Linked DNA regions of Homo sapiens. The protein of the gene in region 1 purifies or fractionates together with the protein of each later gene. This does not show direct contact. Each region holds a gene or a part of one and is shown in the gene's direction. Other genes may lie near its edges.

The links. The genes of interacting proteins can lie anywhere in the genome.
Region 2: the proteins of CLBA1 (region 1) and FAT3 purify together in Homo sapiens (affinity purification with mass spectrometry; one large-scale study listed by BioGRID and IntAct). This does not show direct contact.

Annotation. Positions count from the first base shown.
Region 1 is NC_000014.9:104,983,430-104,989,420, forward strand, and holds the start of CLBA1 (uncharacterized protein CLBA1), read left to right. Parts: upstream 1-2,358; 5' UTR 2,359-3,002; coding exon 3,003-3,425; intron 3,426-5,513; coding exon 5,514-5,659; intron 5,660-5,991.
Region 2 is NC_000011.10:92,345,825-92,350,565, forward strand, and holds part of FAT3 (protocadherin Fat 3 isoform 1 precursor), read left to right. Parts: intron 1-4,741.

The DNA of each region.
Region 1 (5,991 bases):
GGCTGTGCCATGAAGCAGGATGGTCTGCCCAGAAGCTGGCCCAAGAAGCCAGCAGCGGCCTAGCAGCCACCTGGGCTGCCCCCACCTCCTCCTGCAACCAGGGTTGGGCACCTGATGTCAAGGTTGCCGCTGCCATTTCCTCTGCACCTTGGCTTCCCCGACGCAGCACTTCTCAGTGGGTCACAAGGGGTCACTCAGGCATATTAGTTCCCTGCTGCTGCCATAACAAAATACCCCCGACACAGTGGTTGAAAACAGCATGTGCGCATTTATCAACTCCAGTTCTAGGTGTGGGCAGGATGGTGTGCCTTCTGGAGGCTTCAGGGGAGATCTGTTTTCTGGTCCCTTCAGCCTCCAGAGGCATCTGCAGTCTCGTATCACTCCGGCTCTGCTTCCATCTTTGCGTCTCCTCTCTGACTCTGACCTTCCTGCTTCCTTCTCAGGACCTTTGTGATTACATGCCTCATCCAGGCTCCACTCCTCCTCTCAAGAGCCTTAATTTAAGCCCATCTATAAAGTGTCTTTGACCCTGTAAGGTCACATAGCCACAGGTTCCAGGGGTTAGGATGTGGACATCTCTGTGGGGCTGTTCAACTGCCACACCAGCTCTTCAACCCATATGGGTCATTTCTATCCTCCAACCACCCTGGGAGTACTGTGCTCCCCACGCTCTTCACGTGGAAGCTGAGGCCCAGACGGGGGTGGGGAATTGCAGAGAACGAGGAGAGCAGCTCCTGTCCCAGCTCTGCTTCTCACGCAGGCCTTTGGGGTGGGGCCTCAGTTTCCCCACCTGTACACAAGGACAACACTCCTCCTGCCCCCCTCCCAGCTCCCTGGGCCTCAAGGACGGCAAGGACGTGCAGTGGATGAGGGGCAGCAGTGGGAACGGACACTGCCCTTAAGCTGGCAAGACAGGCCCAGGCCTGGTCTACAAACCCAGCCAGCTCCTGATCACCATCCTTAGGGTCACTGCGGTGCTGGGGTGGCCAAGCCAAGATCCAGTCCTGGGCAGTCTGACCGAAGAGCTTCCATACTGCATGGCCCGGCTGCTCTGCCCCTCAGGAAGGAGCGGGGACAGGAGGCTGGGTCTAAGGTGCAGAGAATGATCTCATCTTGTCATTTGTAAAATTAAATTGTTCTGTAGCTTGGCTGAGAAGGACCAGGGAGGGAAGGGGTGATTCAAGCAAGGACAGAGTCCAGGCAGGGCCCCAGGCCCCAGGGTGGGAGAAATGCGAGCCTGAGGTAGATAGGGGGTGGACAGTAGGTGGCATGGTTCAGGGCTTCACCAGGGCCAGGCCCTCCCCTTACCCAGAGGAGGCAGTGATGGGGGCCAGTCTGGGAAGGCCAGGGAGGAGATGGAGTCAAGGTTGACTCCTTGAGTCTGGGGGTGAGGGCAGATGGCAGAAGGCCTGGAAGCCCGGAGGGGAGCTGCCAGAGGCCAGCCTAGCTCCTTGGTCGTCCAGTGGCTGGAGAGGGGCTGTCCGTCAGCCCTGCTCTGCCCGGGTCTGGCTGGTGACAAAGGAGGGGAGCACTCCATGCGGCCTGCGAGGGAGGGGTGGAGCCTCCCCGCAGCTCCTTCCCCCAGGAATGGGGACGAGTTAGGGGCGGGCGAGGTTTTGGGATTCAGGAGTCAGCAAGACGGACTTGGCTCTCGCCAGGGACAGGTGGGGTCCTGAGGGGCCGTCGCTCAGCTGCACCCACAGAGGGGTCGGCGGCGCGGCAAGTTAGGCTGCGGGGCGCCGGGAGAAGGGGCTGCGGGTGACGGGTGCGCTGGGACGGACCTGGGGAGCTCGTCGTGAGGAAGAAAGAACCACTCTAGGGCCAGGCCCAGTGGCTCAAGCCTGTAATCCCAGCACTTTGGGAGGCCGAGGCGGGCGGATCACGAGGTCAGGAAATCGAGACCATCCTGGCTAACACGGTGAAACCCAGTCTCTATTAAAATACAAAAAAATCAGCCGGGCGTGGTGGCGGGCGCCTGTAGTCCCAGCTACTCGGGAGGCTGAGGCAGGAGAATGGCGTGAACCCGGGAGGCGGAGCTTGCAGTGAGTCGAGATCGCGCCACTGCTCTCCAGCCTGGGCGACAGAGCGAGACTCCGTCTCAAAAAAAAAAGAAAAAAAAAAAAAAGAAAGAACCACTCGGGCGGCGAACTGAGCACGGACAGAAAGCTCGAGCGGCCCGGCGCCCAGGGCTCGGCCAGTGTGGAAGCCCGATCCCACCCGCAGCGGAGGCGGCCCGGGGCAGGGAGGGCGGGTCCGGGGCGGGTCCTGAACGGCGGGGGCCGGCGCTGGCCTCGCCCCGGATGCGTGCTGACGCCACGGCGACGGACGCCGGAAGCGGAGCTGGCGCACGCCGTTGCCAGGCAACGGGGCGGCGCAGGCAGGAGGGAACGGCTGGTTGCAGGTTTCTCTCGCCCTGGTCCCGCGCGGCCCCGCCGAGGCGGCGACCAAGGTGGGTGCGGGGACTCTCGGGAGCCGTGGGCCAGGCGCTTAGCCGGCCACCTCGGGCCCTGTCCAGGCCCAGGCGTTCCAGGGCTGCTCTGCGGGCCGCGTGCGAGAGGGACTCTCGGGAGGCCCCGGGGCGCCGCACCCACTCCTTCCCACTTGGGACTCCCGCGGGCGCCCGGCTCTCGCTCCTCTGGCCAGCGTGGGCCTCCCAGGCCCCCTCGCGGCTCTCTCCAGAGCAGGAGCCCCACCTTGGGCCGCCCCTCTCACACCTGCCGTGGGTCTGGTACGCGCCTCTGTGTCGGACTCCGCGCCCGCCTGCGTGGGAGGAAGCCAGGACTCCCGGGCGACCGGGCCATTCCTGTGGTTTGTGTCAGTTCCACAGCAGCACGTGGGCACTTTCCACCGTCAGCCACTGGGCAGCCCGGGGCACTCCTGCAGCGTCCCCTGGCCCTCTCCAGGGCAGGGGAAGGTTGGGCAGTCCTGGGCGGCCAGCACCCCGGCGTGCATGTCTCCTGAGCAGCTGCCCATCGGGCCTCTGCTGGCCTGGGGGCTCCAAGATGCAAGGCCGGCGGGAGCTGGGGGGAGAGCCTTTGAGTGACCTCCAGGAGGAAGCAGCCAGCGCTTCCCTCCGAGTGGCACCTGAGAGGCTGAGTGATGACAGTTTGGAATGGAGACGGACCTGCCCCGACCTTCTCCTGTCCGATGGGAAAGCCAGCATCTCCATGCCCCGTGAGGGCGGTTCCACCTGCACTGCCCGATGTCCTGACCCTGGGGAACACAGCAGCACTTGGGGGGAGTTTGAAGGCTTTCGGGAATCTTCAGCCAAGTCTGGACAATTCTCACAGTCCCTTGAACTCCTCGAGGGACCCACAGAACCCCAGCCACCGAGAACCACTTCTGCCCCAAAAGAGTGCAGTTCTCACCAACCATGCCAGGGTGGACCTTGGGTGACAGGAACTTCTGCCGTCCCACCTTCTGAGGTATTTCTGCTGTGCTGTGGTCACCATGTTGAGTGGGACGTGTACACACCAAGAGGCCTACAGCCCTCGAATGCTGTGGCGTGCTGGCCAGGGAGGGGGCTGACAGCCCCAGAGCGTCTGCTTCTCTCCTGGCCTTCGTCCCTGGCCATGTGGTTGGCAGTCCCATCCTGAGGCCAGGGAAGCAATGAGTTGGCAGAGGAGGCTGCAGAAATGGGTCACACGAAGGCCAGGTGGGGGCCACCTGAGCTGGGTCGCTCTTTCTGACCATTCCTCCCCCAGCCTGTCCATTCCCCATTGGTGGGGGCTGCACTGGCCCCAGCTCAGGGCATTTGAGGAGGAGCTTTTTGTCTGAATTCTGAATCTGCTGAGTTCAAAAGTCTCAGAGATTCTAAAATCACATGATCACATTTCAACTTGCTTGTAATGAATTGGGTGACGCGGGATCCAACCTGTCCGGGAGCTTGTAATGAATTGGGTGATGCCCATTCCGACCTGTCCGGGAGCCAGGGTCCCAGCCTTCAGGCCCCTGCCCCCTGCTCTCTTTCAGAGCAGACTGTGGGTGTTTACCGTTTGGTGACACTTCCGCTCCTTCTCTTTTCCTGTCTTCTTCCTTCCATTGTTCCTCTTTCTCTGCCACTTCTTCCCAAATGGTTCATCCCAAGCACCATCATGAGAGATCAGAAATAAAACCAGTGAGGAAGGAAATAAAGATATTGTAGTTCTCAGGGCTGGCCTGTTTTCTCTTCCTTTTCTTTTTTTTTTTTTTTTTTTTTTTTTTTTTTTGAGACAGCCTCACTCTGTCGCTGAGGCTGGAGTGCAGTGGCACTGTGTCGGCTCACTGCAACCTCTGTCTCCTGGGTTCAAGCAGTTCTCCTGCCTTAGCCTCCTGAGTAGCTGGGATTACAGGCATCCACCACCACGCCCGGCTAACTTTTTATATATATATATATATATGTATGTTTAGTAGAGACTGGGTTTTACCATGTTTGCCAGGCTGGTCTTGAACTCCTGACCTCAGGTGATCCGCCCGCCTCGGCCTCTCAAAGTGCTGGGATTACAGGCGTGAGCCACCATGCCCGGCCGGACTGTTTTCTGAAGCAGTTTCCCTGGAATCCTGATGAGATCCACTCTTAATAGAGTAAGGTCTGCTGTAATGCTTGTTTTGAATACAGGATTTGTTTTCCAGCGTGATTGATGTATTAGGGAACAATTAGAGCATAGTTGAAATTTCACAAGAAAGAGTAGATAAATGCAGAAAACTGCCCCCAGCTGAGCTGGGGCCCGTTGGAATACATGAGACTCGCACACGTACACCCTCACACAGCGCTTAGTGCCCCAATGTAGCACACCTGTCAACACCTGGTGTTAGGACTTCACCCGGTTCAGACCACCCTCCTCCTACCCCTTCACACTAACTCAGCCTGCGAGCCTTTGTCTTTTCCAAGGTAAAGTGCTGTGCTTACTGTAGTATGTATAATTTCTTTTTTTTTTTTTTTGAGACGGAGTCTCTCTCTGTCACCCAGGCTGGAGTGCAGTGGCACAATCTCGGCTCACTGCAACTTCTGCCCCCCACCCGCCGGATTCAAGCGATTCTCCTGCCTCAGCCTCCTAAGTAGCTGGGATTATAGGCGTGTACCACCACACCCAGCTAATTTTTGTATTTTTAGTAGAGATGGGGGTTTCACCATGTTGGCCAGGCTGGTCTCGAACTCCTGACCTCGTGATCTGCCCACCTGGGGCTCCCAAAGTGCTGGGATTACAGGCGTGAGCCACCGCGCCCGGCCGCATGTATAATTTCTTAACCAAACTGGAAAACAGCACTGACATTATTGGGTGGTCATCTTTTTTCATGTGTCACTGATGAAGTTTGAATGTTTTGCCCTAACCCCACCTTTCCCATGAGTCCTCTGGTTTTGTGTGATTTTGCTAACTTGGTGATTTTTAGGAATGAATATGTCAAGTGATAGTAACACTAATGGTATGATCAATTACAAATTTCATTTCTATCACAATTATTTCTTTGGAATAAGGTAACGTTATGTATGTCTTTCTCCTAACTTTGGTATGCTTTTCTTCTTTTCTTTTCAGCCCATTCTCAGCTATGAGAACATTTTAAAGTGTGCTTTTCAAGAAATAACAGTCCAGCAGGCAGCTGAAGACGTTTCCACCATAGACCATTTCCTAGAAATAAGCAGTGAAGAAAAACCTGGCGTTGAACGTGTACATAAATTGTGGTAATGAACTGAAGAAATATTTCTTACAGCAACTGCTTTTGTACTTTTGTTTGATAAAAGTAGGTGTGTGAGGCTTTGTTTTTGCCTTTATGGAGAGTAGCATCTCTCCTGAGGTCCCTGCCATCTGTGGGTCATAGGGGTCCTATGAGAAGGGGCAGCACGATTGGCGCTCCAGCTGTGGCCTTCCACTCTGAGCCCTATTCATCCTCCTCCCCAGCCAGCTCACCTGGAGCAGCTGGACCCAAGCCCAGCTCCCCTTGGGTCTCAGTGCCAGTGCTGGTGGAGTGGGTGGGGGCCTCGCATTCAGTGCGAGTGGCTGGTGGGCCTGGGCA
Region 2 (4,741 bases), on another chromosome or scaffold:
CAAATCACATAACCTGTCTCAATCTGTTTCCTCAATGGTTAAACTAGGGTGTTGGGGTAGATAAGCTTATGATCCCTTTGGCTATAAAACTCAGTGACTTTACATGGCTTTGGCTCAGTATTTCATTATATAATGTGAATAATGGCATAAGCTAAATTATTGTGATTCAAATACTTAGTATATTATCTTATACATTCTCTAGCTACAGTGGTTTGTATTTTAAAGAAATAACCCACATCAAACCCTTTTTCTTCTTTTCAGGCAGCCATTAGCACCAACCAGGGAGTAAAACTTTATTCCCAAGTATGTCATACGAGCAGTCTATAACTGATTTCAGGAGCAAGGACCCAGAACATAAAGTAGCGCCATGAGAATGGTAATTTGGGTGGTATCAGAATAGGCTGCTCTAGAAGATAGGGCTAAGCAGTATCTGGCTGTTCTGGGACTCATCATTGCAAGGAGAAATCTTGCTTGAACTCCCCAGGAATTAAATGCTAGCTCTAAGGAGTAGTTCCCTAACGCAGCTGTAGCTTTTGGAGTTTGAAAGTGCACACACGGGAATTGGAATCAATTACAGAGCTCTGGCAATAGCTTTTGGCCATGTCACCATGCACAGGACCTCTCTGTGGCATTGACTCTGACCCCTGGCACAAGTTTGTGATCTGTGAAAGGGTAGCTTTCATATTAGGTGTGGTCCCTCTCTGGACCCTTTATCCTTACCTCAGTTTTACTCGTTTTTTGTTTTGTATCCCTGCTTCTGAAAACCTTAATAATTATGTCAGTTAATATTCACGGAATATTTACTATGTGCCGGACACTATGTTAAGCCTTTTACCTGAGAGTGTGAACTCTTATACTCCCCATTTTAAAGATAGAGAAACTGAGATTTAATGAAGCTTTCAATATTAGCCCCAAAGTCACCCAGCCACTAGATGGCAAGTCCTGGATTCAACTCAGGTTTCTCTGACCTTTGAGGCTAACATAGTGTTCTTCCTTTGCTTTTAGTAAAGAAAGGACATTCTTTCCTTTACCTTTGATGGGTGTTTTTTTCTACTGGAAAATAAAACGTAGAGTAGGTTGTAAATTTTACTCCCTGTCTTGTGATTCCCAGATTTTGTCTTCTCTAAAATCTGCCTTTATTAATGATAATAGCTAACAATTATATACAATGTGCCATGAAGTGTTTTAAGTATTTTCCATTTATTAACTCAAATCCTATTCGGTAGGCATTATTGTTCTCATTTTATAGAAGAATAAACTGAGGTGCAGAGAGGTTCAATAGCTTGCCTGGGGTTGTAAAGCTAGTAAATGGCATAGATAGGATTCAAATGCAGGCAGTCAAGTGCCAAGGTGCATGTTCTGTAACCATTGCATGCTCTGCCTTTGTGTTGGCATTGGCTCTGGCACTGCATACACCAGAGCAGAGACTGATCTTCCATTTGCAGTTTGAACACGGGTCACCTTCCTCAAGGACTCCTGTCAAGGGGACTCTATATTGACTTTGTTCTTTGCTTTACAGCCTAACATAGCAAATTTCTTGAGTACCCTCCCGATTTGGCTAACAAAATCCCCTCAAAATAGAAAAGATAGGAAGAGAGGGAATGAAAATGAAATATATTTTTAAAATACCTTTGGTAGTGTTCAGAAGTCTCACCAATTTAAGCAGACCAGATTAATGTTGGCAGAAAACAGCTTTATCAGGTTACCAAAGCAAGCATAGGTACCCTACAGAGCCAAGGCTGTCCCAGAGAGGTAGTCTCTGTGATTGCTGTTCCCTGCCCCCAAGGTCTCTGGTATTTATTCATCCATGGAAAGAAAAATCTGCATGCCCTTCTGAGTCCCACAGTAAGATCCATCCTAACAGAGCAGAAGGGCAGGATGGGGAGGCACACCAGGAATGCCTCTGAAAAATAAATGTCTCAAAGATTGATGGCTTGATGATCTCTTTGGAGATTATATCAAAAATTATTGATTATGTTAGTAAGTCGTAGAAAATAGGCTCTGAGGTTGGGAACTAAGTGCTTTCTTTAAAATAATCTAGAAGCAGTAGAATAAATCAATGTGCAGAGCATCTAAAATACTGTATCATATTGGCTTCACAAATAGCTTGGCTTCAATGTGGAAAGGGCAATATTATTTTTAAAAAAAACTTCAACAGTTGTCTTGGCATGCTAAAAAGAAAAGAAGACAAAATTCAATTCTATTATTTGCTTTGCAAAATTTTACAACATTCCTAGCTTCTAGCATTCATTTATTTCCTAATCAGTGGGAAAACTGCAAGGCTTTTTAAAATAATTTGTGCCAGATAGGGCTTTTTTTTTTTCCTTTGCCACAATAAAGATACAAAAGCCTTAAAAGATATTTTGTTTTCAACAACTGAATTTGACAAACTTAGTCCTGCTCAGTTTTTTGGTGGTAGGTCTGAATTTCAGTATGTGATAATACTACTCCATTTATGCTTGTTTTGAAATATTTTCTATTTGCATTTAAGACCACCGATTCCGGTTTTTAAGAAAACAATTCCAGCAATGTATCTTGCTGAAAGAAAAACTCACTATGCAAAAGCACCAATTTTTGAATAGTTAAATTGAATGATACATTTTCATATTATGATAGCATTCTTTGCCTTGAAAGATTCACAGAAAGATTTGTAAAAAGTAACTATCCCCTTAGGGCACTTTAATGTTTATTTATAAACAGTTAACTACTTAGAGGAAGAAATAACACCAGGGAGAGTAATATGGTGTCAGAAAAGGAAGATGACTCCAAAATAATGATAAACCACAGCTCTAAAATTTTAATGTAACTTAATGAAAACTAATTCAATTGAAGCGTGTTTCAGTTTGGTATTAGCTCTGAACCTGGGAAACTTGAGTCCTGGCATTAGGGGAATCTCTTCATTTTATGGACCCTGGTTTCTTCATCTGTAAACTCAGGAGATTGGAACAGATGATCTTTAAGGCTCCTTTGAACCTGTATAATTTCTTGATTCAGTTTCCTGAAGTAAGATGTGCTTTTTGTTGGGGAATAGGAAACGGAGCATATTAAAGGCATCTGGGCCTCTGGTTACATTAGTACTTAGGGTTCTGTTCAACAAACCAGTGTTGTTTGCTTCCTGTGTGGTGGGTGCTGTACTGGATGCTGGGAATAGAGTGATGTACTTCCCATCAGGTTTCCTTAAGTAGAAGTTCAAAGTGTGAATGAGGGGGCAGACTCAGAAAAGTTCAGTTGAACTGTATTTTTCATGGGGGAAGTTTTCCTCTCTGATGACCATGGAGTCTAGACTCCTTGGGCTAAGGATCGGCAAAATTACTGTTACAGGAAGTCTTCTCAGCACAGGATAGTGAGTGGGAAATAAGGCAGAAACTTTATTTGTATTTCTCTGGAGCATTCTGGGAGTGATCCCAGTATTTCACCTTGAGAGAGTGTAACCTAACCTTCACATTCCCTTACGAGAGACTCGCTTACTTTACCGTGTTCACATGTCCACAGTGAGCCTAAAAATGTCTCCACTGCTTTGGAGCCTTTTGAGATGATGAAATAGAGACTCCTGAGGCATACAAAATACTATTAAAGCTTCTGCTAGTGTACTTCTGTGATCACTACAGAGAGGTTCTTTTGCTCCCATATTTCAGTTGACTGTGCTCTACAAAGTAGACACCCCAATCACACTGTGGGCTTCGCCACTCTGCTAGGTAGGACATTTGAACCTACTGCATCCAGAAAACCCCAAATGTATCATTTTCTTAATAAAGTTTCCTTTGAAATGACCAGCAGCCCAGTGATGTCTTTCTAGGAACTTACTGAGCAGGGTCACCAGCGGCCATCTGACTTGGTCCCTGCCCTAGTTACCAGAGCTGCTGTCCACAGGCTGCCTGTTCCACTTACTTAGCATATGCAATGTCTCTAAAGAACTGCATGTGAAATTAACTTCCTTTATAGACGCTTACTCCCTTTTTCAGCTTTTCATTTTTGCTGTCTATTAATGCCTGTAAAGTCCCTAAATTAAACTTGACTTTTTCTATCTGTAACTCCATGTTTTCTACGGGATACTTCAGCAAATGATAGCAGCAAGATATCTTACATTCCCAGGCAGAACCAGCATTTGCATGCTCAGGGTTTCACTTCAGGAGAGTCTCCTGTAAGGTGGAGCTGAAAAAAAAAAAAAAAGAAAAGCCTTGTGGGGTATGGAGAGAGCCTGAGCTCTAATCTAGAGTCTGCTAGACTCTATCAATGACTATTAAATTTAGACAGTTTCCACAGTTTCATGACTATGTGGGTTAAAAGGTAAAAACTTTTTCCTATTTTAGCCAGTAAAATTAATCAAGGAGAGGGGAGAAAGGAGGTATTCAACAAGAAAAAGTTAAGTCTATTTAGACTTAACTAATAAAGTCGAGATAGGAAAATGAGGTTTTATATTATCATTAACAAAAAGGTTATAATAATATGTGCCTTGCTAACCTTGGATATGAAAGGGTTTTATAAACCATACAATTTGTAATATTTTAATATGTTAAACTCCTGTAGGGATTTTTTTTTTTTTCAGTTTGCAGCCAATAACTAGAACTACATTAAAACCAGAGAGGAGATAACCAAAAAGATATGCTGGGGGCAGGGATGGGTTGTACTTTTTAAAATCAATGACATATGTTGACTATTTCATTAGAATTAAATTATGTCATATATGCTTCTAGGATCCTTAATTATTTCATTCTTGCTTGCAGGTAATTTTGAGAGAGTG